Linked DNA regions of Homo sapiens: regions 2, 3 and 4 are each linked to region 1. Evidence: fine-mapped expression QTL. A gene starts in region 1. Each other region holds a variant in brackets. All regions are shown on one strand. Distances are from middle to middle.

Region 1 (8,677 bases):
AAAACCTCAGTACGTAAATACAATCCATATTTAACCAAAACAAAAGCTGAGGCTCAGAGAAGTTAAATGAAGTGCCAAGGGTCGGGGAGGGCTTTGGGGTGATTCAAGCACATTACATTTACGGTGTACTTTATTTCTATTATTACACTGTCATATATCATGAAATAATTTTACAACTCACCATAACGTAGAATCAATGGGAGCCCTGAGCTTGTTTTCCTGCAACTAGATGGTCCTATCTGGGGGAGAGGGGAAACAGTGACAGATCATCAAGCATTAGATTCTCATAAGGTGTCTGCAAACTAGAACCCTCACTTGTGCAGTTCACAATAGGGTTCACGCTCCTATGAGAATCTAATGCCGTGGCTGATCTGACAGGAGGTGGCTCAGGTGGTAATGCAAGCAATGGGGAGGAGCTGTAAATACAGATGAGGCTTTGCTCACTCACTCAGCCACTCACCTCCTGTAGTGTGGCCCAGTTCCAGTACCGGTCTGTGGACCAGGGGTTGGGGACCCCTTGACCTAAAGCACAGCAATATCTGAGTAAAACAATTATCAATTATATCTAGTGAAAAGGGAACTGGAACAGACTATCAAGCAATGATGAGTATGTTTTTGCAATATAAAAGGGACAATGCCAGTGATGACCAGCTCCCAACTCCCGGAAAAAAAGAGATTTCATATGCATTCCCAAGTCAAGAGACATGCATTACCACCAACATATCATCTACTAAATACCATTAACAAGAGCGACAAAATATTTTTAAGCAAAGGCTAAAATAACCTACTCTCCTGACGGTCTAAGTGAAACAAAAACTCTTAACGATCTACGTACAATCCTCTAATTGATTTAAGTCAGCTACTCTTGAAAAACCCAAATACATAATACATCTACACTAATTTTTAAATCCAGAATGTGTCCTGGGTTTAGTGATTCAGAGTATCTAAATCTACATATACATAAAATTATCTTCTCTTTGGGAACAGGCTTCCAAAAATGTCATCTTTTGCTACTGACGGCATGCATGTGTGTATAAAATCCAATTATAAGTGTTTCCCTTCTCTACACCTGGGCAGAACACTGTACTGAGGAACCAATAAAAGGAGATGGTCTCCAAACACAGGTGGGCCTGCACCACTGCTCAGCCATGTTTACAGGCCCCACTCCCAAGGCTGTCTTTACAAGCTTCCTACCTTATTCCTGATAAATCTGTTTGTTTCACAAAGGAAAGGAGACAATCAGGCTGGAAACTCCTTTCCGTGCCCGTGACTCCTGTCCTGTCTCTCAAAAATTCTTCCCTAACCTCTAAGAGTCTCTCCATCCCATCAATGCTCTGAAAATCCATTCCTTCCCATGTCCTCATTTTTGAGACAAAGTCTCGCTCTGACACCCAGGCTGGAGTGCAGTTGTGCGATGATGGCTCACTGCAACCTTCGCCTCCAGGACTCAAGCAATCCTGCCATCTCAGCCTCCGGGCAGCTGGGTCCGTGGGACCACGGGCATGCGCCACCGGACTTCACTAATTTTTTTTTAATTTTTTTGTAAAGACCAGATTTCACGATATTGCCCAGTCTGGTCTCGAACTGCTGGAAGCAAGCCATCCTCCCACCACAGCCTCTCAAAGTGCTGGGATCACAGGTGTGAGCCACCGCGCCCAATCTTATTCCACTCATTTTACCTTCAGCCTCTCCGGAGGCTCCTCTCCCCCTATATACACAACATGCTCAAGTCCCTTTACTCTCACCATTCCTATTTACCATCTTTTGGGGGTAAAACCATGGTACCTAATTACAACTCTTACTTAACCAAATTATAATTGCGGCTCAGGTGGTTTAAAAAGTGCCCTCAGGAACTCTGCGCCTCACCTCTCCCAGCTGTGATAAAACCCCGTGAACCTCCTATCATTGCTCTTAGGTGATTCTGTAATTATTAATATTACTTGTGTATGCCTTGGTCTCCCCACCAGACCATGCGATCGTTACCATCAGTAAGCAGGGCCCTTCGTTTTCGTCTCTGTGGCGGCTCGCACTCTACCAGGGCTCCCGGGTGGGTCCCACAGATTCCTGTGCCCTAAATGCTGCCTCGCACGTTGGTACTTATGCACAGGCAATATACTCCACCTAGAACGTTAGACTTTTTTCCACCTGCCAGGCACACTCCCACTCATCAGTCAGATCTCGTTTGCACATTTCTTTATAAAGTCGTTCCTTACTCTCCCCAAGACACACGCTTTTAAGTCTCTCACATTTGGTACATATAACCATTGCAGCGCTAATTACATCCATACATGTATTTGTTTACAAATCTATCTCCCATCCTACGTTGTGTCCTAAGTGGGAGGGACAGTGCCCAGTCGTTTTGGTGTTCCCTGTGCGAAGCAGCGCCTGGCACTCAGCAGGTGCTTAATAAATGCGACTTGAGTGAATGAATGGCGACACACGTGCCCCAGGAGGTGCCCCAGGAGGTGCCGTCTCTAACTATGGGCTCTGCATGGGCGATTCCCTTCTAATACAAACGAGGGTTTGGTTTGCAGGAAGGAGGGCGGGAGGTACCGAGGCGGAGGTTTTCAGGGCTCGTGGCGGCGGGGGGCAGGGGATTTAAATTGCTGGGCGAGCCGAGGCCGACGGCCGGAGGAAGGAGGCGAGAGGGCGGGGACTCCCGCGTCCGGGCGGAAGGAGGGCGCAGGGAGGAGCTGCGGCCGTAGGGCTGCCGGTCGGGCGAGGGGTAGGGGAGGCTCCCGCCCACTCCCGGCCGGGGCCCCGCACTCACTCGTCCCCCTGCAGGAGGCTGCGCTCCGTGATGGGCCGCACGGCCGTCCTCGGGGGCTCGGCGCCCGGATCCGAGGGGCGGAAGCACAGGCTCAGCTTCTCCTCCAAGCTGCAGGCCGGGGCCGGGAAACCGTCGGCGCCCCCACCCGCCTCGGCCCCCGCCTCCGCCCCAGGCTCGGGGCTCGCGTTACAGTTCTCCTGGTCCAGGAGGCTCCGGGCCGGCTCCTGGAACTCATAGAAATCCTGCCAGTCCCCGTCCGCCGCCATCGCCGCCCGGAGCAGTCGCGCGCCCCGCCCAGGCCGGCCCAGCCCGCCCAGCCCGGCCCCGCCCCGGCCCGAAGCCCCGCCCCCGCCCGCTACCGTGCTGACAGATCCCAGGCTGTCCCAACCCTGGGTCTCCGGTGGCCTGAGTCTTCCTGGAGTTGAACGCGGTGCTACTAGAAAGCCAAGACCTTAACTGCCTTGAGTCACTTCCTATATTCTCTATCATTTAGGAATAACTTCCCTGTTAGCTTCCCTTATTAGCAACTTGGCCTAAATGTGGCTAAAATAAAGGACTTCTTTAAACTTACGACCTAATATCAGATTACGCCCCGAAAGTCGTTTTCCCCAAGGTAACCTGCTCCTTTCCTAACTTGCCAACCAGAATAACAGCCAGAGTCAATGGGAAATGTTTAGGTGGTACCGAAGTTCATTCCTCAAATATTTTACCTCTCACGTGCAAAGCACTGGCTAGATCCTGCAGAACATACAAAGATAATTATGCCAGTTAACATTTGCAAAGCACTTAGAGCAATGCCTAATAGTAGATACCCTATGTGTATGTTATAACTAATACATGGGTGCCCCATACACAGGGCTTACAATGTCGGAGTGATAAGAGTAACAAGAAATTGTTTAGACCTCATAAAAACTAAGTGTGATTGGGCGGTTCAGTTTTGCAAGATGAAAAGAGTTATGGAGATGGATGGTGGTGATGGTTCCACGACAGTGTTAATGTGCTGAATGCCACTGATCTATACACTTACAGATGGTTAAGATAGTAATTTTATGTTTATTTTACTACAATACAAAAAAATTGGAGTAGGCCAGGCGAGGTGGCTCACATCTATAATCCCAGCACTTTGGCAGGCCCAGGTGGACGGATCGCTTGAGGTCAGGAGTTCAAGACCAACCTGGCCAACATGGTAAAACCCCGTCTCTACTAAAAATACAAAATCTAGCTGTCAGGCCTCTGAGCCCAAGCCAAGCCATCGCATCCCGTGACTTGCACATATACACCCAGATGGCCTGAAGTAACTGAAGATCCACAAAAGAAGTAAAAATAGCCTTAAGGATGACATTCCACCATTGTGATTTGTTCCTGCCCCACCCTAACTGATCAATGTACTTTGTAATCTCCCCCACCCTTAAGAAGTTTCTTTGTAATTCTCCCCACCCTTGAGAATGTACTTTGTGAGATCCACCCCTGCCCGCAAAACATTGCTCTTAACTTCACCGCCTGACCCAAAACCTGTAAGAACTAATGATAATCCATCTCCCTTCGCTGACTCTCTTTTCGGACTCAGCCCGCCTGCATCCAGGTGAAATAAACAGCCGTGTTGCTCACACAAAGCCTGTTTGGTGGTCTCTTCACACGGACGCACATGAAATTTGGTGCCGTGACTCGGATCGGGGGACCTCCCTTGGGAGATCAATCCCCCTGTCCTCCTGCTCTTTGCTCCATGAGAAAGATCCACCTACGACCTCAGGTCCTCAGACCGACCAGCCCAAAAAACATCTCACCAATTTCAAATCCAGTAAGCGGCCTCTTTTTACTGTCTTCTCCAGCTTCCCTCACTATCCCTCAACCTCTTTCTCCTTTCAATCTTGGCGCCGCACTTCAATCTCTCCCTTCTCTTAATTTCAGTTCCTTTCATTTTCTGGTAGAGACAAGGGAGACACGTTTTATCCGTGGACCCAAAACTCCGGCGCCGGTCACGGGCTGGGAAGGCAGCCTTCCCTTGGTGTTTAATCATTGCAGGGACGCCTCTGATTATTCACCCACGTTTCAAAGGTGTCAGACCACGCAGGGACGCCTGCCTTGGTCCTTCACCCTTAGCGGCAAGTCCCGCTTTTCTGAGGAAGGGGCGAGTACCCCAACCCCTTCTCTCCTTGTCTCTACCCCTTCTGTGATTTTTCTGGGGCAGGGGCAAGAACCCCTCAACCCCTTCTCCTTCACCCTTAGCGGCAAGTCCCGCTTTTCTAGGTGGCAAGAACCCCCAATCCCTTATTTCCACACCCCAATCTCTTATCTCTGTGCCCCAATCCCTTATTTCCGTGCCCCAACCCCCCTTCCCGCTTTTCTGGAGGGTAACAACCCCGAACCCCTTCCCTCCATGTCTCTACGCTCTCTTTTCTCTGGGTTTACCTCCTTCACTATGGGCAACCTTCCATCCTCCATTCCTCCTCCTTCTCGCTTAGCCTGTCCTCAAGAACTTAAAACCTCTTCAACTCACACCTGACCTAAAACCTAAATGCATTATTTTCTTCTGCAACACCACTTGGCCCCAATACAAACTTGACAATGGCTCTAAATGGCCAGAAAAGGGCACTTTCGATTTCTCCATCCTACAAGACCTAAATAATTTTTGTAGAAAAATGGGCAAATGGTCTGAGGTGCCTTACGTCCAGGCATTTTTCACACTTCACTCCCTCCCTAGCCTCTGTTCCCAATGCGATTCCTCCCAGATCCTCCTTTCCCTCCTGCCTATCCCCTCAGTCCCAACCCCAAGCGTCGCTGAGTTTTTCCAGTCTTCCTTTTCTACAGACCCATCTGACCTTTCCCCTCCTCCCCAGGCTGCTCGTCGCCAGGCCGAGCTAAGTCCCAATTCTTCCTCAGCCCCAACTCCTCCACCCTATAATCCTTCTATCACCTCCCCTCCTCACACCTGGTCTGGCTTACAGTTTAGTTCCGCGACTAGCTCTTCCCCACCTGCCCAGCAATTTACTCTTAAAAAGATGGCTAGAGCTAAAGGCATAGTCAAGGTTAATGCTCCTTTTTCTTTATCCCAAATCAGATAGCATTTAGGCTCTTTTTCATCAAATATAAAAATCCAGCCCAGTTCATGGCTCGTTTGGCAGCAACTCTGAGACGCTTTACAGCCCTAGACCCTAAAAGGTCAAAAGGCCGTCTTATTCTCAATATACATTTTATTACCCAATCTGCTCCCAACATTAAATAAAACTCCAAAAATTAGAATCTGGCACTCAAACCCCACAACAGGACTTAATTAACCTCACCTTCAAGGTGTACGATAATAGAATAAAGTTGCAATTCCTTGCCTCCACTGTGAGACAAACCCCAGCCACATCTCCAGCACACAAGAACTTCCAAACGCCCGAACCGCAGCGGCCAGGGGTTCCTCCAGAACCTCCTCCCCCAGGAGCTTACTACAAGTGCCAGAAATCTGGCCACCAGGCCAAGGAATGCCCACAGCCCAGGATTCCTCCTAAGCCGTGTCCCATCTGTGCGGGACCCCACTGAAAAATCGGACTGTTCAACTCACCTGGTAGCCACTTCCAGAGCCCCTGGAACTCTGGCCCAAGGCTCTCTGACTCCTTCCCAGATCTTCTCAGCTTAGCGGCTGAAGACTGACACTGCCCAATCGCCTCGGAAGCCCCCTAGACCATCACGGATGCCAAGCTTCGGGTAACTCTCACAGTGGAGGTTAAGTCCGTCCCTTCTTAATCAATACGGAGGCTACCTGCTCCACATTACCTTCTTTTCAAGGGCCTGTTTCCCTTGCTTCCATAACTGTTGTGGGTATTGACGGCCAGGCTTCTAAACCTCTTAAAACTCCCCAACTCTCGTGCCAACTTGGACAACACTCTTTTATGCACTCTTTGTTAGTTATCCCCACCTGCCCAGTTCCCTTATTAGGCCGAGATATTTTAACCAAATTATCTGCTTCCCTGACTATTCCTGGACTACAGCCACATCTCATTGCCGCCCTTCTCCCCAACCCAAAGCCTCCTTCGTGTCTTCCTCTCATATCCCCCCACCTTAACCCACAAGTATGGGACATCTCTACTCCTTCCCTGGCAACCGATCTCATGCCCATTACCATCCCATTAAAATCTAATCACCTTTACCCCACTCAACGCCAATATCCCATCCCACAGCATGCTTTAAAAGGATTAAAGCCTGTTACCACTCGCCTGCTACAGCATGGGCTTCTAAAACCTATAAACTCTCCTTACCATTCCCCCATTTTACCTCTCCTAAAACGAGACAAGGCTTACAGGTTAGTTCAGAATCTGCACCTTATCAACCAAATTGTTTTGCCTATCCACCCCGTGGTGCCAAACCCATATACTCTCCTATCCTCAATACCTCCCTCTACTACCCATTATTCTGTTCTGGATCTCAAACATGCTTTCTTTACTATTCCTTTGCACGCTTCATCCCAGCCTCTCTTTGCCTTCACTTAGACTGACCCTGACACCCATTAGGCTCAGCAAATTGACTGGGCTGTACTGCCGCAAGGCTTCACAGACAGCCCCCATTACTTCAGTCAAGCCCAAATTTCATCCTCATCTGTTACCTATCTCGGCATAATTCTCGTAAAAACACACGTGCTCTCCCTGCTGATCGTGTCCGATTAATCTCCCAAACCTCAATCCCTTACTAAAGAACAACTCCTTTCCTTCCTAGGCATGGTTAGTGCGGTCAGAATTCTTACACAAGAGCCAGGACCACACCGGGTAGCCTTTCTGTCCAAACAACTTGACCTTACTGTTTTAGCCTAGCCCTCATGTCTGCATGCAGTGGCTGCCGCTGCTTTAATACTGTTAGAGGCCCTAAAAATCACAAACTATGCTCAACTCATTCTCTACATTTCTCATAACTTCCAAAATCTATTTTCTTCTCACACCTGACGCATATACTTTCTGCTCCCCGGCTCCTTCAGCTGTACTCACTCTTTGTTAAGTCCCACAATTACCATTGTTCCTGGCCCGGACTTCAATCCGGCCTCCCACATTATTCCTGATACCACACCTGACCCCCATGACTGTATCTCTCTGATCCACCTGATATTCACCCCATTTCCCCGTATTTCCTTCTTTCCTGTTCCTCACCCCGATCACACTTGATTTATTGATGGCAGTTCCACCAGGCCTAATCGCCACACACCAGCAAAGGCAGGCTATGCTATAGTACAAACCACTACCCCGCCTCTCAGAACCTCTCATTTCCTTTCCATCATGGAAATCTATCCTCAAGGAAATAACTTCTCAGTGTTCCATCTGCTATTCTACTACTCCTCAGGGATTATTCAGGCCCCCTCTCTTCCCTACACATCAAGCTCGAGGATTTGCCCCGACCCAGGACTGGCAAATTAGCTTTACTCAACATGTCCCGAGTCAGGAAACTAAAATACCTCTTAGTCTAAATAGACACTTTCACTGAATAAGTAGAGGCCTTTCCTACAGGGTCTGAGAAGGACACCACAGTCATTTCTTCCCTTCTGTCAGACATAATTCCTCAGTTTAGCCTTCCCACCTCTATACAGTCTGATAACAGACTAGCCTTTATTAGTCAAATTAGCCAAGCAGTTTTTCAGGCTCTTAGTATTCAGTGAAATCTTTATATCCCTTATGGTCCTCTGTCTTCAAGAAAATTAGAATGGACAAAAGGTCTTTTAAAAACACACCTCACCAAGCTCAGCCACCAACTTAAAAAGGACTGGACAATACTTTTACCACTTTCGCTTCTCAGAAGTCAGACCTGTCCTCAAAATGCTACAGGGCACAGCCCATTTAAGCTCCTGTATAGACACTCCTTTTTATTAGGCCCCAGTCTCATTCGACACCAGACCAACTTAGACTGTGCCCCAAAAAAACTTGTCATCCGTACTATCTTTTG
Region 2 (8,677 bases), 57 kb before region 1:
ACCCAAAGAGTTTAAGTGAGCTCTGCACATGTTGGCCTTTTGTTTAGGCGTTGTGCAGACTAGCCCCAATTGAGCATTTCTAAAAATGTCCATTTATCTCCTAAAAAGGATAGGATGTTCTGCAAGGTAAGGGGGTGGAACCATTTTTCAGAGCCTTCAGTTGGGTTCTCTTTATAGTTTTCCATATACACACTTGCTGTGTATATGGAAAAAGCAAGTCTTAAGTGCTTTAAATGAGAATAAGAAAAAATATATGGTTTTCCACTGGAATTATTTTATCTAGTGTATATTCACCTATGTTTCACAAATTTCATACCAGTTTCCCCAGTAATATGCTTTTAATGATATAAATGATGAAACTTGACCTTATTTATTTCACGAAGAGTCATTTAATGCCTTTTATGTGCCAAGCACTGTTCTAGGCACTGGGGACACAGCAGTGAACCAAATAGCAGTGCACACGGAGCTTACGTTGTAGTAGGGAGAAGCCAGGCAGCTAACAGGTAAACAGTAACTAGGTAGCCACCAAGATGGGGATCCGGCTCTGGAGAAAGGCATAGCAAGACAGAGAGGCTGGGGAGAAGTGGGGCAGGCAGGTTGTTTTGTATTATGTAGAATGGTCAGGGAGCACCTTACCAACAAGATGAGATTTAATGAAGAGACCCAGAATTGCAGTTCTCATGGGGAACAGGCAGAACCTCTGGGTATAGCCAGCGCCAAGGCCCTGGAGTGGGAACGTGCTGTGCGTGTTCAAGGTAGAGCAGTGTTCAAGGTGCATGTTCAGGAGGAGCTGTGTGGAGGTAACTCAGTGAGCATGGAGGAGGTAAGAGGTGGGGCAGAGAGGCAGCCACGGCCAGACACAAAGGGTCTCGCAGATGAGTGCAAGATTGTATTGAGTGAGATGAAACCTTGGAAGGTTTGGAGCAGGGAGCGACAGGATCTGACTTACCTTTGAATGGGATTTCTCTGGTGCTGGGTTGAACATAGACTGTGGGGCATGGAGGTCAATAGTGAAAGCAGAGAGACCAACTTGGAGACTTTTTTAAGAATCCGGGCGAGAGATGACAGTGACTTGGACAGGGTGGTAGCCGTGGAGGTGGGGAGAAGTGGGCAGGTTCTGACTATGCCATATGAGTCGCATCAGTAGGATTTCAATGTATGCGGGGAGTGAGTGGAAGAGGAGCCAAGGATGACTACGACATTTTGGTTTGGGGCATTTTTAGCTTGAAATAGTCATTCAGCATCAAAGTGGAGCTAATGAATAGACAAATATCTAATCTGGGCTTCAGGAAAGAAACTGAAAGTAGATCTACAAATTTGAAAGTTTAGCCATAGGTGGTTTCTAGTCTCAAGGTTTTTAAGCCTTGAGACTAGATGAGAGCACCGAAGGGTAAGAATAAATAGAAAAGAAAAGAGAGCGCAGGACCGAGCCCTGAGACCTTCTGACTTTTGGAGACTGAGCAGGTGCAGAGGGCCTAGCAAAAGAAATAGAGAAGGAGCACCAGGAATAAAGGAAGAAGCCAAGAGGGTCAGTGACATGGAAACCAGGTGGAGAAAGGGTTTCTGGTAGGAAAGAGTAAACTGCTCAATCAAGCGCCACTGTTAGCCACGTAAGATGCGATGTGGGAACAGACTTGTGCACTTAGCACTGCTGTAATGAACTTCACAGAAGTACAGTGGTGGAGGCAAAGTCTAATCAGAGTGATTTCAAGAAAGAATGGGAGAGGTGAATTCAATTCACCTCTCCCATTGCGAGTTATGGTTATGCAACTCTCATGCAGACCATAAGTGCCAAGTTCATGAATAAGACAGACTGTGAAGTTGAGGGTCCTTGGAGGGTTTCACAGAGAAAGGACATGAGCTAGATTTTAAAGGACAGATGTGCTGTCTTCATTGGAGTGAAGAGGATAACCCAACCAAGACCTGAGATGGGAAAAGTCAAGGCCGGTGCCTCTAAGGTCAAGGCCAGTGCCTCTGGAGCAGTGAGTTTTAGTAGCAGTAGGTAAGGACAGAAACAGTAGCTTTGGCAAGGATTTTTCAGGCCTTAATTATCAAATGAAGAGTGTAGATTTTGTTCTTTATAGGGAATGGGGAGGCTTATTTTTGAGCAGCTGAATGACATGTTCACAAAGATGTTTTGGGGTAACCTTTGTGTAACAGGGTGGTGTGCAGGAAGGACTAAAGCAGAGAGAGACCAGAGGCCAGGACAGCTGTAACAGGCACTGCAAATGTCCTCGGTGTGATAACAAGGACCCAAATTCAGGTAGTGGTGGTAGAAATAGAGGTCAATTCATTCTCCTTGGTTTGTGAGTTTGATAAGAGAGAGTACAGATATTGCTAACATCCTTGTTCATCATTAGAGATTTCTCCAGTGACTTCTCAGTTAAGATTTACTATTGGGTTGAAATTTAATTTCTGTTAACTCTCCTTTCTGCATCTGCTGTATTCCTGATGAAACATTTTTCTATCTTTAAGCAAATACTGCAATCAGTTGAGCTTTTGCCACCTTCTGTTTGATCCAGTATGGGCTGCCAGGAAGGCTGTATTCCTGTCCCATTCTTGCATCGGTTCATTGTGTGATCTTAGTCAAGACTCACCACCAAAGTTTCACGCTTCCATTTCTCATCTGGATAGCACATGCCACCTCCCAGAAATGCTGTGAGGATTATACCATCTCAGAAATGATGGTGTGGGAGCACTTCCCGGTCTGTCCAGCAAACAAGAACCTTGCTTCTTCCTTTAGACATAGCAACTAACATTCTGAATATCCTCTTTCTTTACAAAACAGTTTCACCTTTACCATCTTTGGATATGAGTACAGAACCTATGAGCTGTTAGGTGATTAGCACCTGTCTCTTTACAGAAGAAACTGAGGCTCAGGAAAGGTAAGAGGGTTATCCGAAGTCATGGAGCTGGTTAGCAGAGGATGAGACCCCTGCTCCTAAATTGACCTCAGGTTCCATCTCCCAAAAAAATGCTGACCTCAGCTTGTAAGCACCAAGCACCTCGCCCCGTATTCCAGAAGAGGACATTTTAAGGAAGGCAACTCTTAGAGATGACCAGATGCCTCTGAAAGTAAAATATATCCCCAGTAAATTATCTTGAGTTCCTCCAAAGCGCAGGTCAAGTATGAGCACAGGAGCGATTGTGACCGTGTGCCCGTGATCTTCGTGGTAGGGCTGGATGTAGCTTTGTGTAAATCTCCCTGGCACTGTCCATCTGTAATGCCAACAGCTGTAAAGGGCTCTTCTAGTAAATACCAGAAGGGTTATATTTTAGAGTCTTGGGTTGAAGGCGGTCTTTGGCCATAGAAGGCGGCCTGGGTCTAGGCGTGGAAACAAATAGCATTCCCACTTCTTTTTGTTTCAACAAGCAGTTTTTTAACTGAAAGAATTGTTCTTTTTGGCAAAACTGCTCAGAGGCAGCTTCCCTTTTATGTTCAAATTAAAGGGAAATGACTCTCTTCCCTTGGACTTGAGGACTGTGAACTGGAGCTGTGCGTGTTCTGTGATAAAGAAGGAGGTGTGGGTGGATTTTAATCAGAGCTGAACTGAGTGGTGGAGTGAGCTAATACACAGGACAGGTTATGAGCTGCTGGAAGTAAGAAGTGGCTGTCAGGCATCACTCATCAGGAGAGACCCATGGGGGCCAGGATTGGTCTCACTCAAAACTGTATGCCCAAAACCAGTGCCTGCCATGTAGGAAGTGCTCAGGAAATATTTGTTGAACAAATGGTAATACAATTAATCACTGAAGAAGACATCCTCCTTCACCATAGACAGATCCTTCTAACTTTCCCTGCTGTTTCCAAGTAGAGCCCCTGTGGGAAGAGGACTCACTGTCATGCCTCAGCTTGGTGGAGTTTCACCGGAAATCTACCCATATGCAGGGTCAAGGCAAAAGAATTCCAAAGTTACGTCTCTCCCTCTCACTCAGGAAAAAACCTGAGGTGGAACTGAATCAATCCCAGCTCTGGGGCCTCTGCAGAAACTTTTACTACTTAGCCATTGACATTTACAGGTTTGTTGGAATTGGTGTCGCATTTGCCCTTTACACTGAGGCCTCAGAAACCAGTGGCAGTTCGGCCCCTATTGTCATAGGAAGGCTCAGTGTGAAGCCCTGGACTAGGCAGGGGAGGGGCAGAAGGGTGTGTGTGGCACTGAAAGGTGTCAAGTAAATGGCGACATGGCTTTTCTGCCCATATTCACCCAGGAAATTCATACCACACATGAGAGTTTTTCAGTGGGTGCATTAAATACCATCCCCCTGCACACACCTCCCGGAATCACCTAGTCCAGACCTACCGAATCAGGACCTGTGAGAGTCAGCACATTTTCTAAGCTCTTTGGGTAATTCTGATATGATTTTTAAAAATTTGAGAGTCACTGGTTTGTGCTCAGGCCCCTGCACCTGCAAATGGTAATGTTTTCAGTAACTTCTATTTTTAATTCTCGAGTTTGCAGGGATGCACTGAACCTGTAGAAACTATAATTGTTCCCAGTTCTTTTTATGTTTAAAGGTTTTATAATATAACTAAGAAAGCAGAAGACTATTCTTGGAGGCAACAAGATAACTTGGGCTTTGGAATCACAGAACTGCATTTGAATCCCAGCTCTACCACTTACTAGATGCATGATTTTGAGCGATTTAACTTAACCTCTCTGGGTTTCTTTCCCTGGCTGGGTACCCAGTTAACTCATGGGGGAAGCTTAGCAAGTACTCTCTTCTCTATCACTTTCCTCTTCTCTCAAAGTCATCTTAAGGTTTACTTCTCAAAAGCCTGTTAACTTTGAGACAGAAAACAATCACTCTGAGCAGAGGGGATTATTAATCCTATTTTAATTTATATACTTATACTGT[A/G]TATTTTATGTTGGTCTAAATTAGGCTATGGTGAGTATTTAGGATCCTACGTGTTGAGTAATTGCTTTATAAAAAAATCAGTGAATAATATGGCAGGATCTGCCCGAAAGGAAATACGTGCATGACACAAACTTTTATTGTCACATTTTGAAAACAGGTTCTGAAGAATTAATTGCTTTAAAATGTGGGGCTAGTTGTCGTTAGCTGGATGAAGTATAAATACAAAGAAATATTTGTAGGAGCTGAGAAAAGTTCTGATTTTTTTTTTTTTTAAAAAGACCTGATATTTGAGATAAATAATATTCTTCTGTTTGTTTTATGTTGTAGTATAATACCTATCTGATCAAACTGGATAATGTAAATATATTTACTGAAGATCAGCTTCTAATCTAAATGGTTCCAGTGGTAACATAATGGACATCTGAGACTTATACTCATGAGGTCTACCTACAGTCCATTCCCATTTAGGGGAAGAGAAAGGAGAGGAAATGGCCAAGAAGTCCATAAGAAGTGGACAGTGCTTTAACTTTTTCAAGTTTTGCTAACATATTTTATGTAAGTTATTCAATACCCCCATATTAAAGAGCAGCAGCTATTAAACACCAACATTTATTAGCTGCTGGAAAGTAATAAATAACTTCAGCTAGTCCCCTTCAGTTTCCATAAAATTATAAAACCAACACCATTTGACGTGAAAAAGCAGTTTTTGACCCTGGTGGAGTAGAGAATTCTTTCATCTTTTAAATGTTATAAGACATGTTTCTCCTCACTGCAAAGCTCGTGATTCTCTAGCATGAGTGATGAATGATGTAAATGGCAGAAACTGCATCTTTCATGTCCCAGGAAATGTGGTCTTGAATTGAGTGCACCATTTGGATTGAGAATACAAAAGCCAACAATACAGCAGCTTCATCATCTCTTAGGAAAAATGTTCCCTTCTTTTAGAAATGTATGTCCCAGAACCAACCAATATACCCATTGAGAAGACAAACCATCGAGGAGAGGTTGACCTGGAGGTTCCCCTGTGGCCCACGCCTAGTGAAAATGATATCGTCCATCTCCCTAGAGGTAAGCATTGAAGGCAGCTGAGATCTGCTAGTTTTCTATGTGGTCTACTTAGGTGTTTTCTAATTTTTAAAATTTCCTATGAGTAACTTTTAAAATGACTTGCTGAAGTAAATTCAAATAACTATTCCCGGGCAGACCTGCTTGGCTGAAACATATTTACACCACACATTGATAAAATAAGTCAGCAGGTAACTGGATTAAATGCCTCCTTCCTGGCCCTCTGTGCTCAGAGACTTTGTGATGACGGAAATAAATGGAAATAAATATGTTCCTAGTCATAAGAGCCTGGTATCTGGAACTTCTAAGCCATCTCTCAAACGTATGTATATATAAACTTTGTAAGGAGAGTAATCATGAATTAGTCACTGTCTCTTGTAGATTCCGCACTGAGCATTTGTACATTAGGTTACCCTCTACTTCTGGGCAGTTTTCACTTCATGTGAGCTAAACTTATCACCTATGTTGATTTTTCTAGTCACCAGGTTTACTCCATGCCTTTTTATCTTGCTCTATCCTTTCAGTCTGTGCGTAATAAAGATGTTATTTTGTCTCCCAATAGCTGTCACTATTTCCTTTTCTATAAAAGTAGACCTCTTCTTGATCAGTAGTATAAACTTGCTCTTAGCCGTGACTCAGTACTGCCTCCTGTGTCCTCCAACCATATTTTCCAAATCATTGCTATATAACTTATATTTCTTTTGGAAGAAGCAATATTCATTGCTTGAGAGAGATTAATTGTCTGTTACTCTAGATATTCTAAACGTTATGCTTGGATCAAACCAGATGACCAGAAAGTCAAATTCCTGGACCTAGTGTTTTTGGCTCTCTGTATAATTGTTCTGAGTGTGCTTTAGCATTATGCTTACATTCATTCAGTCAGTAAATATTAGTGCCTGCTGTATGCCAGACCCTGTTCTAGAGGCTAGACTTCAACATACTGTAAGTACGACTATTCTTATGACTGAAGACCTGTGCATTGCATAGTATCTATGTTATAAAGCCCCTAAAGAGAAATTTTCTCATGCATCAATAGCAAGAAAATGTATGCTTCTCCTAGGCAACTGATTTGTTTTAACCTAAAAGACATTGTGAATCGTATTAAAGACTGATAGTTGTTTCCGTTTTTGGCTTTGGCTGCTACAAAGCTCAAAGCTAACTTTGATGGCTTGGTTTTAGCACAGAAACAGAACTGGAAGACTGAATTTTGTAAACAGACCTCACTTGCAGCTTCATTTTTCTTTCACCAAGACCTTCCTTAATTTATATCTTATTCTTCTTGTATGACACATATTCCTAAAACTGCTTTCTATTTGATTTGGAATATGGGAAAGTAAAATTCATTCTTTTATTCATTGTATATTTAAAATCTGAATTCATCAATAAAATGTTACTCTTTGACATTTTTCTTGATGCTGGAAAATATGTTTCTATAAAGTTTTATTGCCATCTGCACTGGCTAAAATGATTAGGAATGTTTTCTACCTCCCATTCCTCCCTGCTCCCACCACCCCTCCAGAACACACACAGAAGCATATCATTTAAAATCTGAGTTTTAAACCACAGTGTTACATACCACAAAGCTCTGTCACTTCATGAGCTGAATTTCCAGAACAATTTAGGAGTAACTCCTTTTGATACTGTGTGTCATGTGTCTTTAACTAAATTGATTTTTAATGCATTTAGAAAACCTGACTACAATGATTTATTTGAAACAAAACAGAATATAAAAATAAGGAAACTTTAGGGAGTGCCCCCTATTGGTATGTGTTTAACCTTATTTTTGTCTGCAACATTCATTGTAAGAGAGATATTTTAAAAGAACATAAAGGTCATCATTCATAAGTGCAAAACTAAATGTAGTCACCTATGCGATATAATTCATTAAGGCAGAAAAATGATCTAATAGGCCTAAGCAAGATTTTCAACAAGTTTATGAAAAGTAAGACAATATTGCTTAGAGTTCAGTGAACCAGAGTATCAACCAAAAGACCAACTTCCTGATTGATTAGTTTTAATCTAATTAGTCTTAGCTATTAACACTAATTAATTAATAGTAAAAGAACATACTTTGTTCTAGTCTCCTGTTTGCCAATAAATCAGCTAATGTTTCTCCTTCGAAATCTGAGAAGACCATGTATGTTAACAGTAATCAAAATATTTTCATGGTCTAATTCACTTTTTCAAAATCTACCTAAGCACCTTCTTATTTCCTTGATTAGCTAGAGCCGGCATCATCTTACCCAATTATTAAGATTCTCACTCTGATTTTTTTTTTTTTTTTTTTTTTTTTTTAACATTCATCCCTAAGCGCTCTGCTCTCTACTAAGAGCTCTTTGGATCAACATTAGATTTTAATCACATTTTTAGCCTCAAAAAACTGGGAAGCAATAAAACCAAGTTGCTGATCTCTATTTGCAATGTCATTAAAATAATCCTTAACAATTCTGGTTTAGGTAATAAATGCTTATAATTTTTTTTCTCCTAGATATGGGTCACCTCCAGGTAGATTACAGAGATAACAGGCTGCACCCAAGTGAAGATTCTTCACTGGACTCCATTGCCTCAGTTGTGGTTCCCATAATTATATGCCTCTCTATTATAATAGCATTCCTATTCATCAATCAGAAGAAACAGTGGATACCACTGCTTTGCTGGTATCGAACACCAACTAAGGTACTGTCTTGCAAAAGTTAGTCTCTTGAATGATGAATCTAGGAAAACTTACACTCATATTGAAATTGCTTGAAAC
Region 3 (6,564 bases), 48 kb before region 1:
TTTTTTTTTTCAGTTCCTTCATCTCCCTATTTGACAGTTTCTTGACATTTCACCTTAAAATACAGTTTGTCAGTGTCCCTCATAAAAGTATAGTTGGTACTAGAACAAGATGTGATAATCTGCATACAGGCTATCAATCAATGAATTGTGAAACTGTTATCTCACCTGAGTTAGGTACTAAATTTCTGTTCATTTGAGATAATGTAAAGCAACTAATTTTTTGTGGTTTTATTCCTCCTCTCATTAAATAGCCTTCTTCCTTAAATAATCAGCTAGTATCTGTGGACTGCAAGAAAGGAACCAGAGTCCAGGTGGACAGTTCCCAGAGAATGCTAAGAATTGCAGAACCAGATGCAAGATTCAGTGGCTTCTACAGCATGCAAAAACAGAACCATCTACAGGCAGACAATTTCTACCAAACAGTGTGAAGAAAGGCAACTAGGATGAGGTTTCAAAAGACGGAAGACGACTAAATCTGCTCTAAAAAGTAAACTAGAATTTGTGCACTTGCTTAGTGGATTGTATTGGATTGTGACTTGATGTACAGCGCTAAGACCTTACTGGGATGGGCTCTGTCTACAGCAATGTGCAGAACAAGCATTCCCACTTTTCCTCAAGATAACTGACCAAGTGTTTTCTTAGAACCAAAGTTTTTAAAGTTGCTAAGATATATTTGCCTGTAAGATAGCTGTAGAGATATTTGGGGTGGGGACAGTGAGTTTGGATGGGGAAATGGGTGGGAGGGTGGTGTTGGGAAGAAAAATTGGTCAGCTTGGCTCGGGGAGAAACCTGGTAACATAAAAGCAGTTCAGTGGCCCAGAGGTTATTTTTTTCCTATTGCTCTGAAGACTGCACTGGTTGCTGCAAAGCTCAGGCCTGAATGAGCAGGAAACAAAAAAGGCCTTGCGACCCAGCTGCCATAACCACCTTAGAACTACCAGACGAGCACATCAGAACCCTTTGACAGCCATCCCAGGTCTAAAGCCACAAGTTTCTTTTCTATACAGTCACAACTGCAGTAGGCAGTGAGGAAGCCAGAGAAATGCGATAGCGGCATTTCTCTAAAGCGGGTTATTAAGGATATATACAGTTACACTTTTTGCTGCTTTTATTTTCTTCCAAGCCAATCAATCAGCCAGTTCCTAGCAGAGTCAGCACATGAACAAGATCTAAGTCATTTCTTGATGTGAGCACTGGAGCTTTTTTTTTTTTACAACGTGACAGGAAGAGGAGGGAGAGGGTGACGAACACCAGGCATTTCCAGGGGCTATATTTCACTGTTTGTTGTTGCTTTGTTCTGTTATATTGTTGGTTGTTCATAGTTTTTGTTGAAGCTCTAGCTTAAGAAGAAACTTTTTTTAAAAAGACTGTTTGGGGATTCTTTTTCCTTATTATATACTGATTCTACAAAATAGAAACTACTTCATTTTAATTGTATATTATTCAAGCACCTTTGTTGAAGCTCAAAAAAAATGATGCCTCTTTAAACTTTAGCAATTATAGGAGTATTTATGTAACTATCTTATGCTTCAAAAAACAAAAGTATTTGTGTGCATGTGTATATAATATATATATATACATATATATTTATACACATACAATTTATGTTTTCCTGTTGAATGTATTTTTATGAGATTTTAACCAGAACAAAGGCAGATAAACAGGCATTCCATAGCAGTGCTTTTGATCACTTACAAATTTTTTGAATAACACAAAATCTCATTCTACCTGCAGTTTAATTGGAAAGATGTGTGTGTGAGAGTATGTATGTGTGTGTGTGTGTGTGTGTGTGTGCGCGCGCACGCACGCCTTGAGCAGTCAGCATTGCACCTGCTATGGAGAAGGGTATTCCTTTATTAAAATCTTCCTCATTTGGATTTGCTTTCAGTTGGTTTTCAATTTGCTCACTGGCCAGAGACATTGATGGCAGTTCTTATCTGCATCACTAATCAGCTCCTGGATTTTTTTTTTTTTTTTTTCAAACAATGGTTTGAAACAACTACTGGAATATTGTCCACAATAAGCTGGAAGTTTGTTGTAGTATGCCTCAAATATAACTGACTGTATACTATAGTGGTAACTTTTCAAACAGCCCTTAGCACTTTTATACTAATTAACCCATTTGTGCATTGAGTTTTCTTTTAAAAATGCTTGTTGTGAAAGACACAGATACCCAGTATGCTTAACGTGAAAAGAAAATGTGTTCTGTTTTGTAAAGGAACTTTCAAGTATTGTTGTAAATACTTGGACAGAGGTTGCTGAACTTTAAAAAAAATTAATTTATTATTATAATGACCTAATTTATTAATCTGAAGATTAACCATTTTTTTGTCTTAGAATATCAAAAAGAAAAAGAAAAAGGTGTTCTAGCTGTTTGCATCAAAGGAAAAAAAGATTTATTATCAAGGGGCAATATTTTTATCTTTTCCAAAATAAATTTGTTAATGATACATTACAAAAATAGATTGACATCAGCCTGATTAGTATAAATTTTGTTGGTAATTAATCCATTCCTGGCATAAAAAGTCTTTATCAAAAAAAATTGTAGATGCTTGCTTTTTGTTTTTTCAATCATGGCCATATTATGAAAATACTAACAGGATATAGGACAAGGTGTAAATTTTTTTATTATTATTTTAAAGATATGATTTATCCTGAGTGCTGTATCTATTACTCTTTTACTTTGGTTCCTGTTGTGCTCTTGTAAAAGAAAAATATAATTTCCTGAAGAATAAAATAGATATATGGCACTTGGAGTGCATCATAGTTCTACAGTTTGTTTTTGTTTTCTTCAAAAAAGCTGTAAGAGAATTATCTGCAACTTGATTCTTGGCAGGAAATAAACATTTTGAGTTGAAATCACACAGTGTAACTTGCAAAAAGATTCCATCTCTGAGATCCGAAAGACTTTTAAGGTTATCAGTCCAATGAACCCCTGGTGTAACAAGAAGTCCCGTGCTTTTGTCATTAGGCGGGTCTTTCCCAAGGTATCCTTGCAAAAAGAAAAGTGTCTCCCAGAGTACAGAGAATAGCGATGCTGTTTTTAGGGAGACAAGAAACCTACCTGCTGTCAGAAACGTGCTCATAGCTGGTATCAAAATTAACTTGCTACGCACAGGAGGACTGTGGTGGGAAATCCTACAGTGGTTCGATGCTGAAGAAGAAAGACTTTACCGAGCACGATCAGGGGAAGCCTAACTGCAAAGAGACTTTTTGAGCTGACAGGAAAAAATAAATAGGTATATTTTCATACATTTTAGAAGCATCAATTTAAGAATGAGCTATAAACAGACCAATGTTGAATCTCCTTTAAAAAAATATATCCCCCTAAGGACTTTCTACTATATCATATACCCTTTAAAGCTACATTTCTTCAGTACAAGGCGTCATTTTTACAAATTCAAATTAATTTAAATTATTAATATTACTGTGTAAGTACATGTATCTGGGGAAAGGGCCAGTAAGTTCCAAATAAGAACATTAATAAAACAAGGAAACCATCTCGAGTTTCTCATACCCCTAGAGATGATGGCTGAAATGCCAAGCAGGCATTAAACTTCAAACCGCGCCCCTGCCTTTGCAGTCATGGTGTCTCAGTTGCTGAGTGGAGTGAGGAATATGTTAGCCCTGTTTGTTTTGCTCACAGGTGTTTAAGTGGAATTGTGAAAGCCGCCTGTAGCAGGTCCTATATAGACTCTTAATTCATTCATGTCGTCTATGGGAGGGG[T/G]CTGCATGGCTGTTTTTGAAATGTCTCACAGCCCCAGAAAAAGAGCAGGACTTACTTCTGTCATTCCACAGCAGCTCAGCATACTCTAATAAACGTCCTCCTCTTCCCCTTCGTAGCATTCTGGGACTAATCAGGGTTTCATCTGCTCACATATTGTAGCGATGGGTTCTGTGTGGAATTAAGGGAAAGAATCTAGCACTGTAAGGAAAAAAAAAATACAACACAAAACTCCCAAATATAAGGCTCTCAAACATGTATTTTTACTTCTTAAAAAATTTATTAAATGCCATTGATTTGACTGGAACCAGCAAAAGTGCTCATGATATTGATGAATCCATAAGTAGCTGTATCTAGAATTCATACTTAAGAAAAACACACAGGCATGAATAAAATAGGACACAGTAATGAGAATGGGCAGTTCTGCAGTGTACACTTTCTCAAGCACCTCAGAGGACACACACTTAAAGTACAATTCTTCACAGACACATGAAGCAGAACATTTGAAAATCAAAACTTAAATACAAGATTCTAAAAGTGAATGGCAATTTAATGGTTAAAATTTGACCAGTGGTGAAACAAGCAGCAAGCTACAAAATCCATCACCACCAACAGTTTCAATGTTAGCACTAAGTATTAAACCAAAGTAATGCATATTCTGGTTTTGCTTCTTCAAGAACAGCCCGTTTATTCTGTTTCAATCTCTCTGAACAATACTGGTAGGTAATAGTTACACTGACAATTCTCACAAAAAAACAGTGTTGGTTCTTGCCATCACTGAATTTATAGTATAAATCTCCCAAGGCTTTAATCTAGTTCATCAGTGCAGTTTAGATAAGAAAGCCATAAAAACAAATGGGCATACTGTCAGTTAATGAGAAATACAACTGCACATGCACAATTAATATTACTCTCTCTTAATCTACTAAGAGAACAGTTTATTAGTAGATTTAACAAAAACCATCTCTAGAATTCAAAATAGTGCCCATATTTCCGTTGGTTCTATAATATAAAGAATTAGTGTAGTCAAGATCTGTTAATACTGAATCAAACCCAAGTTCAAATGTGCTGAGTTTCCAATAGCAAGAAGGGTAATGGTAGCCAGCTCTCAGAATAATGCTGTCGGAAATCTAGCTTGGAGCCCACCGCAGATAAAGTTGCTGCTCTATGTAGGACACAGAACTAGAAGAAAAAGAGAACTTTTAGCTACAAATGTATATTTTGTATACATTTACACAAAACATACATTTTACATGTACATTTAAAAACCATTAAGTAATGAGAACTAAATGTTAATGCAAAGATCTATGTAGCAATTTTTTAAAGGTTTTAAGAGGCTATACCCAACAAGGATGAGTTCTCTCAACACACATTAGAATTTCCCAGAAATGAGATACCAAAAGGCCATGTCTCTTAGGGTGCCACTTGGAGATAGAAGCCCCTAACATTCGCCCTATACCATGAGGCTTGTGACACAACAAACAGGATCCCTAGGGAAGTCAAAGAAGGGTGCAAGTTTCTGCACACATTTTTATTCCTAACTAGCAGCACGGCAGCAGCCACGCGTACATTACTTCAGAATCAGCCTTGGGTACTACTGTCAAGGCAGCAGTGGCGGCAGGCTGCAGTGGGGTCATTAGGCAGGTGCGAGAAAGAGAAGCTCAATTAGCCCATACAGTGCCCACCCTACTCCCTTTTCTCAGGCCAAATGAGACCACTTTTCTACCTTCTTTCACTTCTGACATTTGCATTAAAACTAAGTGGTGTATTTAGGCAGCCAAGCCACACTCTCATCTGTGTTAAAACAACAACAAACCACCCAAAAAAGGGGAAGGAGTATTCTCCCCTTGAGCAATATCCCCCTCCCGGGCAAAGTGTCGTATTATTGGTCCCCAAGGAAGAGGAACAGTTAACCAGCTGTGAACTTTCAGGATGGGTGGAAAAGAGCATTTTCAATGACCCGACTTCCCCACCTTCCCACACACATTTGGGTAAATACATCTCCACATTGCACTCCCGTCTTCATTTTCTCTGACTACAGTCTCCACTGTAGTCTAAATCCTTGCTGCTTTTCCACCCAGTCCTCACAATACAAAGCCAAGACAAAACCACAACACATGCACACAGACAGCTCATCAGAAGCAGGTACAGTATAGATAGAACTGGGCTTACAGACAGGAGCCAGCGGCCCGAGCATGAGGAGCAGAATTAGATGGGTGCTGCTTCCCTAAGGCATGCGGTATAGGTAGGTTCACAATTATAGTCCTAGGTTTTCAGAGTAAAGAATTAAAAATCATTTTTCCCCAGAGGACTCTGTTCTTTGGGTCATAACATCCTTCCATGCAGTTAAATGCTAAAATAGCTAGAGAATGCTTCAGAAGCTCATTCTATCTCTGGCCCTCATAGAGGCCTAGGAACCCGATATAATTAAAATTTAAGACATGTTCTTTATGTTCGTCTCATTCCTGTTTCACATCTAGAAGAACGAACCTCAGAACAATCCAGCTTTCATACCAATGCTAGCACAACACAAAAGCAAACAAAGATGTCAGGTATTAAAAAAAAAATTTTTCAGAATTTTATAGGGAGAAAAAGTCCTCCATCAGAAAAAAAGCTTATTTTTTAAAATGATGTCAACTCAGTCTGTTCTACTCCAGTGTCAACCCACTAGTGTCTAGCTCATGCTTCTTACTCTCACCGCATCAAGACTCTTACAAGTGAAATGTGTGATTCACTTTGAGCACCCTGTGTATACTACTGAGGTTCCCCTTTCATGACACTATGGTTTAAGAAAAGACCATCAGAGGTTTCTAATGTCTCAGAAATCTTCATCTTCCTTG
Region 4 (8,677 bases), 39 kb before region 1:
GTAATAATACCGGAAAGTGGGTTACTATAATGTGCACCTCAATGAACTCTGTGCAGCAAGAAAACCTCAGTGCTGCAGATCAAGCAAACTAGAGAAACTCTTAAAGAAATGGACAGCTATACCCTCCAACAAGCGTATCCTGTCAGACTCCTTAGAAACTTTCAAAGAAAAGACCCAAATGAAGAACAGACTTCCATGAAGCAGCATCGGGCATCTGCCTGGCTGTTGCCTCCTCTGCACTAGGGAGAAACCTGGGAGAATTAGCCTCATTCTAATTTGACAAATTTATCTTCTAAGTAAAAACTAAAATAGAAAAAGCAGCCACCTAGTATAACGTTTTTCTTTTTTAAGCTAGACCATTCAGGTTGAGATAAACTCACAAATATTATACTTTAACAGAGATTGCCAACTCAAATTTTCTCCAAAGCATCCTGGTAAAAATATTTCACTGTTTTTCCCCACCAATACGACAAGGCAAAATAGTGTAACTGTCAAATCAGCCTTCCTGGGTTTAAACCCTGGCTCTGCCACTTCCTAATTGTGTGACGCTGAGCAAGCTACTTAACCACTTTTGCACCAAGCTCTTCATCTGTGAAATGAGAATAATAATTAGATTTAATCTCAAAGGTTTGTTATGAGGACTAAGCTACTAATTCAGATATAAAGGTCATATCATAGTGCCTGGCACATAGTACATGCTATGTATTAACTGTAACTAACACTACTCAAATTATTTAAATTTTTATTAACTATTATTATTGCACCCAAAATCCCCTAATAGCTTTTATCAGGAAGACTATATATCCATAAACACTGTGACTGTCTCCACAGGGCTCTTCTTTTGGAAAGAAAAGGAGCTTTGGACCCAAATATGTCCAGAGATTCCAAACTGTGACAACCTATAAAGACATCTCGATGCTGGAATTATGATGACTTTAGTTTGACCAATGAAGTATTTGTTCTTGATCTGAGAAGCTGAGGCCTGCCAGTAATTCCTGGCTTATGAGCAATATTTATGTTCCCTTCTTTAGAGGGCTACCATGTTCAGTATTTCTGCTTCCAATCATGTTTAAAATTTTTTCTAACTTCTAAATAAAATCACATACCAAAAACCAGCATCATTAAAAGTATAATTGCCTGGGAATTAAGAGATCCAGCTCTGTAACTAACCATCCCCCTGTGTGATCTTGGACACATATAACTTAAGTTCTTCCTGAAAATAAGAGGGCTAGCTACCCAGTTAATCTCTTGATTTTTTATTTCAGACTGGCTGGCATCACTTGATTTATCCATATTTAAATATAAAATTTTTAAAGAATTATTCACCAAAGGAAAGAATAAAAGCTCCAAGTTAGCAGGCAGGGAGCTAAGAAATAAGACACTTGCTTCTACTCTTAGGTTTTCCTTGCCCATTCCTCTTAAATTTCCAAAATAAGTATCATCATCCATACTCATCCATGTGATGCTCTTTCATTTGGTTCCCCCCTAATTAGCAAGTATCATAAATATTTACCATAACAAAGACCTAACAGATCAGCAAATTCAATCCCTCCATTTTAACGGCTAATTGATAGTAACTTAGCCAAAATCATACATATATTAATCTATTTACTGTGAGGTAAATAGAACAAATATTTTTTATCCTAGTTTTTCAATGTAAGCAAAAGAGAGTAAGTAACTTCCAAGGATATCCCTGAAAATAACAGGGATAGAACCAGAATTCAAGGCTCATTTGCGGCCATCATAAGAGATACTCAATATCATGTATATTTAAATCTAACAATTTTTTTTTTAAGGCAAGCCCCTTGAAGGTGCATTATCTTTGTCTGCTTTGTTCACTAAAGTATCCCAAGTGCCCAGATCATGGCCTGGTACAGAGTAGGCCTTCACTAAATATTTGCTGAATGAATGCATGTTCTTAAAACATCACTGTCAATTTATGTTCTACCTATAACTACTACCTCGGGTTCTACATTCATAAGAAATAAAAAGTGTTTACCGTAAATCTTTCCTATTCAGTTACTGACAATCATAGATATATAAGATCCATAAGGAATTTTATTTATGATAAATGGATATGTTCTTAAACATGTAAGAGATGATGGAGATTTAGGTTATGCTTTTTCCCAAAATTTTAGCTCATAAATATTTCACAAGGTAAGAAAAACAGAAAAAGTACAAATCAACACTAG[A/G]GTTACTGTTGTATTTAATGTCACAGCCATTTTTGGCTTCATTCTTATAAAAATAAACAATTATATGCATCATTTACATCCTAAACTGACAAAACACTAACAACAAAATCAGCCAACTAAAGTCAGGTGTTTACCAATCAGCAAAAGGAAATCAGGTAATAGTTTCATTTTGTCTTTGCTCACTTTTTGTTAATATTTGAAGATCTTCAACAGACGGTGGTCCGTTTTTTTTCTCATAAGGAATGACTGTAGTCAAATACTGCCAAGTTTAAAAAAAAAAAGTGTCACTTAAATCGGAATTACCTTATCTGCAAAAAATTTGATACTGTTACTAGAAGGTCTATCTGATAATATAAAACACAAGCTACTTTGGTAATGAAAACACAGGTATTGTATGGGAATAAAGTTATCTTACTATCTCAGATGGAGCTCATTTTTTTTTGCCCACCTCTATTTGCTTCATACAAACCTAATGTCAACAGAAACAACCACCTTTTTGCATTTCAGTTATTGAAAATTTCATAGGACTAAGTCTGAGGATGGTTTACTCAATTTGTTCATTTTTAAAGTGAAGTATTATCTCACATTCTACTTGCATATTTTTCAACACATTTTAAAAATAGCAATTTAAACTAAAAACATAGTTTTAACAGTTCTGCACAATAAAGTAATTTCCAACAGCAAAATAATTCTGTTTCAGACCATTTTTATTCTGGTTGAACAAATGGTCCACATATATAACATGACAACTTTGAAAAACACACACTAGCTTCTTTCAGAAGCTAACAAAGACACACTTAAATCGTTTTAGAAATGCGTTACTATTATTTTAAATTATTGGGTAAGTCATTGTAAACGTTTTTAGGCATTAAAGGAGAAAAGTTAAAGTAGAGAATGGCCTAAGGGGAAATGAATAATGAAAATTAATGTCTGAAATTGAGATAAACTTCCTAGTTCACTACTTGTAAAGGCTCACAAGTAACAGCGCCATGTCTTTTAACTAATCCCATGAAAGCATAATCCATAAATGATTGTCCAGATTTTCCTGTTCTTACCATCCCACCAAAAAAATAGTTCCGTGCATTTCACATATGCTCATATAGAAAGCCAGTGGTTTTTACCTGGAATCTCTTAGCTCCACCCATTATTTAACCTCGTGCCCTAAATCTCAGCTCTGTGGCTAATCCTCACTGAGTGATCTTATCCTGCCCATAACTGAAAAACAGGATAAAGAAAGCTGCTTTACAGTAACTGGATCCCTAAGTCCAGAAAAGTGGTAAAACTGCATAGTTCAATCTCTGAGACACGTTAAGTGTCCCACCGTCTTTTTGACGTAGACTTCTTGCAGGTGATGCCCAATTGTATAATCGAATGTTTCTTTGTAAAGAACAACAACAACAAAAGGCCAGAAATGATGTCCTCCTGGCTTCACTCTGCATGTGTGAGGCAACCTGGAGAGGCACCAGGCGGCTGCACCCTGGCCCGCTCTCTGGCTACCTGGCTGCATCTTCAGGCCTCCCTGCTCCACTGACAGTCTGGAAGATTCCTTGTCTTCTTTTGAGGTTGAGAGAGGTGAGAGGCAACGGAATGAAAACAAAAACTCAAACATCCCTTCATGGAGCTCATTGATGAGCTGCAAATGTCAGTGTGAGGCTTCCCTCTTTAATAGGAATGATCTCCCTTCCGGAGAAACACTTAACTACCTGCAGTAAAAACTCCAGGCATTTGATCTAGGCGTTCTTTTGCTAAACTTCCTACAAGCTACATTTTGTACACCTTCTTAATCTGCACAGAAGAGCTAACTTAAAGACTTTTCTTTTTCAAGGTGAAAATTTCATATAGTGAAAGGTAATTTTAAGCATACCCATTAATGTGAATGTTTCCCATGTTCATGATATTCCTTCAATCATTATACAAAAATGTGAATAAAAAGCAAATTGCTAGATACTTGATTATATATTCATATCTGTGTATAATTTTGTATAAATAATGTCGCATGCCTCGTTTGGCAGACAACTGAGTTGGCTGACTATGCAATACACCTTAAAAACACATGAATTTCATTTAAAGGAGGTAAGATACACTCTATACATATTTTTGACCTAGAACTCTAGTCTCAAACATACCGACATCTGGCCTTCTTCCCCCAAAAATGACATCTTGCGACTTAGACTTTTAGAATTAGAGTCACATATTTTAGTTTAGTTATTTTCACAAGCAGATTTTCTACACATGCAATACATTATGTTAAAATGTTAATATTTGTTTAAAACTAAGAGTGAAAAATGGAGCTATAAAACACGTCTTAAGAATGCATTTAATCTATTGTCGAATTTGAAAAATGCTTTTTCCTCAAAGGGAAATTCTGTTCATTATCAAGACTATAAATATAATGAACTTTTATAATAAACTTTTATTTCTCTCGTTAAGCAATGGTCTTAGTAAATTAGTAAACTACCAGCTTTCAGGATCTTCACTTACACAGAAAATGAAAAAGCAGAGAATGAGGAAAATAAGGATAACCGAGCACCTGTTTCTCTCCACCTGAATTTCCAAAGGTGTGGCGGAGGCCATTCTGAATGACATTTGAGATCCCTTCCATGCTGAAGCGCTAAAGGCGGCAATATACGGCCCAGAAGAAAAGGACAGAGAAAGAAGTTCAAAGTCTATTAGTAAGAATGTACCATGATGACTTATGTGCCCAAGAGGCAAGCAGTTAGAAAATGCCACTACTCATCCAGATAAAGCACATAAACCCATGCTCTTTTTAAAATGCTGTTGCTTCCATTTCTTTGCAAGTTAAATGCAAAAGCAACTGTTTTTATGCTACTATATTCATGCAGGCATTTTTCTGATGTAGCTAATTGTTCCAATGTAAATGTTGTAAGTTGTACACATATTTGTTCTATACAAAATTTACTGTGTAATTTTTAAGATACTTTTTGATATTATTTACCTACATTTTATCAGAAGTCTGAAAACTTAAGATGAACAGTATGCGTATTTTCAGCCTAAGTTTGTATAATTCTACCATCAGTTTGGAGAACATTAACATAACATTTAGCAAATGAAAATGCTGTTACTTGGAGAGCTGATTATTGCTTCCCACTCACTCTTCGGGCCACCTGCCACTGCCTTGGTGCAGAAATGCGAACTAGAAGATGGCATACGCTTCCTGGAGAGCAGAGTGGATCCCATGTGCCAGCCAGGCCCCCAAAAACTTCTCCAAAGACTTTTCCACTCCGTTTCTAGGAAACAATTCTACTTTCTTTCTCCCAGCAACCTCCAAGACTTCCTAGAATTCTTTGTACTGAAAAGGGAGTATTTTTTTCCTAAACAACTTATCTTGATTTGTAACCAGTCTACAATGTCATCAAGCATAGTAAAAAGCGTCTGGTGGCACCTCTATGGCGGCTGAGTCAAAGGAGTGAGATGGATTCTTACAGCATGACTAATTAAGGGGAAAGGCTTCGTGAAAAGGAAGTGAAGGCCTGACTCACTTGATGGTTCCTTCCCCTGGAATTTTATAGAGGAAATTTAAATCAGTAAACACATTTGAGGAGTCAACATAAAGAATATTTTACCAGGCCCCAAGGGGCAGAAGAAAGGAAACCAAGGGAATGGTCATCAAGAAATACATATAGTTTCATCCAGTGGTTCTCAAAGTGTAGTCCAGGGACCCCCTCCCACCCAACTCCTGCCAAGAGGTCCCTGAAATCCTCTCAGGAGTTCAGGAGTTCAAAAATGTTTTCTTAATACTACTAAAATATAAGTTGTCTTTTTTACTCTCATTCTCTCATGACTTACAGTGAAATATTCCAAATGACAGACTGAATGCAGAAGCACATTTGTGAATCTAGCTGTCTTTAATCAAGCCAGATGTTAATGAGATTGACAAAAATGCACAGCAATGATATTTTTTCATGATTTTGTAAAATATTATTTTTCATAAATATATGCTCTTTATAATGAATTTATTTTTGGTATTTTTCATGAATTTATATTTTTAATTTTATCACTTTTAATTTGTAACATGGCTAATATTAAGTTTCTTGGGGTCCTTGATAAATTTTAAGAGCGTAAAGAAGTCTTGATAACAAAAAGCTAAGAAATGCCAACAGGCTGAATCACTGAGGGAGCTATGTGCTTCTGTATCAGTCATGTAACTCTATGGAGTTACTGAAAATCTGAGTTCCAAATTTTACTACCTTACAGGAGACTGTACAAATATGCCTCTCCTCCTAAACCATCCAACTTCCCTACCTAGCCTTTCCCAGATTTGCAAGCCAGTTTTGCTTCAGCAAGAATCAAATGTCTAGTCAAGATACTTTGCTGACTACTCTTCACTTCACTGAAAGCATAACTATTAGCTTTGATGGAGGAGGCTAGTTATAAAACAAAAACCTACAGAAAACTATTTCTGTAAATTTTTCCAATGCTATCATAATTCATTCATATTTTTTAAGCAGATTATCAAATGAGATAACATCTTAGGCTTCAGAGTATATAATAACAATTATGAGAAACTATTCTCAAATAACCAAGTCAGTTTATTTTTTAAATTATTTTCATAAAATATATTTTCTTTCAAATGTGACAAAGAGAAGAGTACTTGTTTTTAAGTACTTAGTCTATATTACCTGGCTCCATTATCTATGAGCATGTTTAAGCTAGATACAAATTCATAAAATCTAAAGCTAGATAAAAAGTTTCAGAATCCACCTATCAGGAAACTAAGACACACTTTCTATTTGGAAAGCACATTCCAAAAACACTAGCTTTGTTTTCGCAATCAGAAAGCCAATTCCTGTCACTAGAAAAAACAAAAGTTGATGCAGTTTCAATTTCGTAACATGCAGATGTAATTTAGGTTTTCTTTATTAAATGTGTGGTTGCAGACATTACTGAGCCATCTCAACTACTGACAGCCTGACTACTTGTGAAAGATGGCTTTTGTGCCACCAGAATTTTAGGCTTAGGGGAAATTAGTGAAAATGCAACCCCATGGGAAGCCAAGGTAACCTGGAAAAACAAAACTAACAGCTGATGCCAGTGAAAGAAGGTAAAGTAAGGAATGCAGCAGAACCTCTGTCCTTGCTGCTGATGGCTGCTGAGTCAGTGGCTGCAGCTGACAAGACCCTACTGTCCCCAGCTCTTTCACTGGCAATGAACCAGGGAAGCAATGTGCAGCATGTACAGTTCAATCGCCTCTTGATCCATTGGAAAATTACAGAACAAGGAAATCAGAAGGTTCTACAGGAAAAAAAAGAAAAAAAAAAAAAACTAAAATCTACGTCTGAGAACGTGCTCCTATCAAACGCTTCAGTTGCAATCAACTCCTACCTCCCCAGAAGTCAGGCAGCATCAATATTCTCCCTCCACTGCATTTCCAAACTCTCCCTCTCTACTAGCTCCTTCCTGACAGCATCCCGAAATTCTCAAACCCTCAACCTCTTTCCTTTCCCAAGGTTTTCCTGAAACAGCTCTTCCCAACATCATTTATTTGATCTGGAAGACCACGGCCACTTTTCAGATCTCTGAGACATCCAGGAATCCCTCCTCCCTGAACCGCTTCCTTGGATTCAGAGACACCACACTCTCCCAGATTTCCCTCACCCCAACCCTCCTGCTCTCTAGTTGCTTCTTCTAAGAGGGGCCACTTTCTTCACTCATCCCTTAAATGCCAGTGTTCCCTAGGATCTTGTGCCTCTTTCTTGACTCACCTCTCAGATGCTGCTGTGCCTCTGGATTCTGTCCCTATTTAATTATCATGCACCCCCTCTGGGTATTACCAATCAATAGCTTCATCTTCTGCTTCCATAAATTGATAGCTCCACTTTACTAAGATCAGTAAAGTGCTAAGAACAGAGACTGGCACATGGCAAAGCTCAGTACATGTTAGCTATCTTTACTGTAATTTCCCTGAGCTTCACTCTGCATGTTTAATGGCCAATTGGACATCTGTACCTATTGTATGTTTAATGGCCTATTGACAAGCCTATGTTCCTGTCTATATTTAATATCAATATTTCTAAAACTCATATCCAAAACTGAATTCAATGTCCTCTTCCCCACCAAAACACAAACAAAAAAATTTAAAAACCGGTTCCTCCTTCAGCATTTTATTCTCCTCGTTCATTCATTTCCTCTTTCTTTCAAAAAACATCCTGAGCCAGATACCATTCCAGGTATTAGAGATTCAGAGTGAACACATCAGCCAAGGCCCCTCCCACCCTCCTGACCTTACATTCCAGCATAAGGGGGCACAAAAAGCACAACACGTAAATGAAGCGAATGCTGCAGATAACTAACACATGCCCTATCCCTAGCTCCAGCAAGGCGATTAAAAACTGGATGCCTACTTTCTACTCGGACGCCAGAGAAAAGCTGCCTGAGGAGATGACATCTGAGCTGAAATATGACGTATACACCCATCCTAGATGAGCCACAAAGGACAATGGACAAGGGAGATCTTCTCAGAGAAC

The links.
Region 2: its variant is fine-mapped to the expression of FEZ2 in whole blood (INTERVAL, PIP 0.92).
Region 3: its variant is fine-mapped to the expression of FEZ2 in whole blood (TOPMed, PIP above 0.99). The same link has a PIP of 0.9 or more in monocytes.
Region 4: its variant is fine-mapped to the expression of FEZ2 in monocytes after LPS (Fairfax 2014, PIP 0.93). The same link has a PIP of 0.9 or more in whole blood.

What each region holds. Positions count from the first base shown.
Region 1 is chr2:36,595,107-36,603,783 of GRCh38, forward strand. FEZ2 (fasciculation and elongation protein zeta 2) reads right to left here and starts at 3,062. Exons shown (of 8, transcript NM_005102.3): 1 at 2,771-3,062. The coding sequence starts at 3,036. RefSeq lists enhancers at 2,203-3,130, 3,131-4,057, 4,985-5,910 and silencers at 2,511-2,870, 2,911-3,130.
Region 2 is chr2:36,538,571-36,547,247 of GRCh38, forward strand. CRIM1 (cysteine rich transmembrane BMP regulator 1) reads left to right here. Exons shown (of 17, transcript NM_016441.3): 15 at 5,806-5,928; 16 at 8,414-8,601. Among named protein-coding and RNA genes, the nearest start is that of FEZ2, 55 kb to the right of the region's middle. The variant A/G (reference allele first, on the strand shown) is at 4,861.
Region 3 is chr2:36,548,274-36,554,837 of GRCh38, forward strand. CRIM1 (cysteine rich transmembrane BMP regulator 1) reads left to right here. Exons shown (of 17, transcript NM_016441.3): 17 at 252-2,862. The coding sequence ends at 428. It overlaps FEZ2 (fasciculation and elongation protein zeta 2), which reads right to left. Exons shown (of 8, transcript NM_005102.3): 8 at 3,985-4,906. The coding sequence ends at 4,890. Among named protein-coding and RNA genes, the nearest start is that of FEZ2, 47 kb to the right of the region's middle. The variant T/G (reference allele first, on the strand shown) is at 3,728.
Region 4 is chr2:36,556,063-36,564,739 of GRCh38, forward strand. It overlaps FEZ2 (fasciculation and elongation protein zeta 2), which reads right to left. Exons shown (of 8, transcript NM_005102.3): 6 at 2,376-2,451. Among named protein-coding and RNA genes, the nearest start is that of FEZ2, 38 kb to the right of the region's middle. RefSeq lists an enhancer at 5,016-6,215. The variant A/G (reference allele first, on the strand shown) is at 2,193.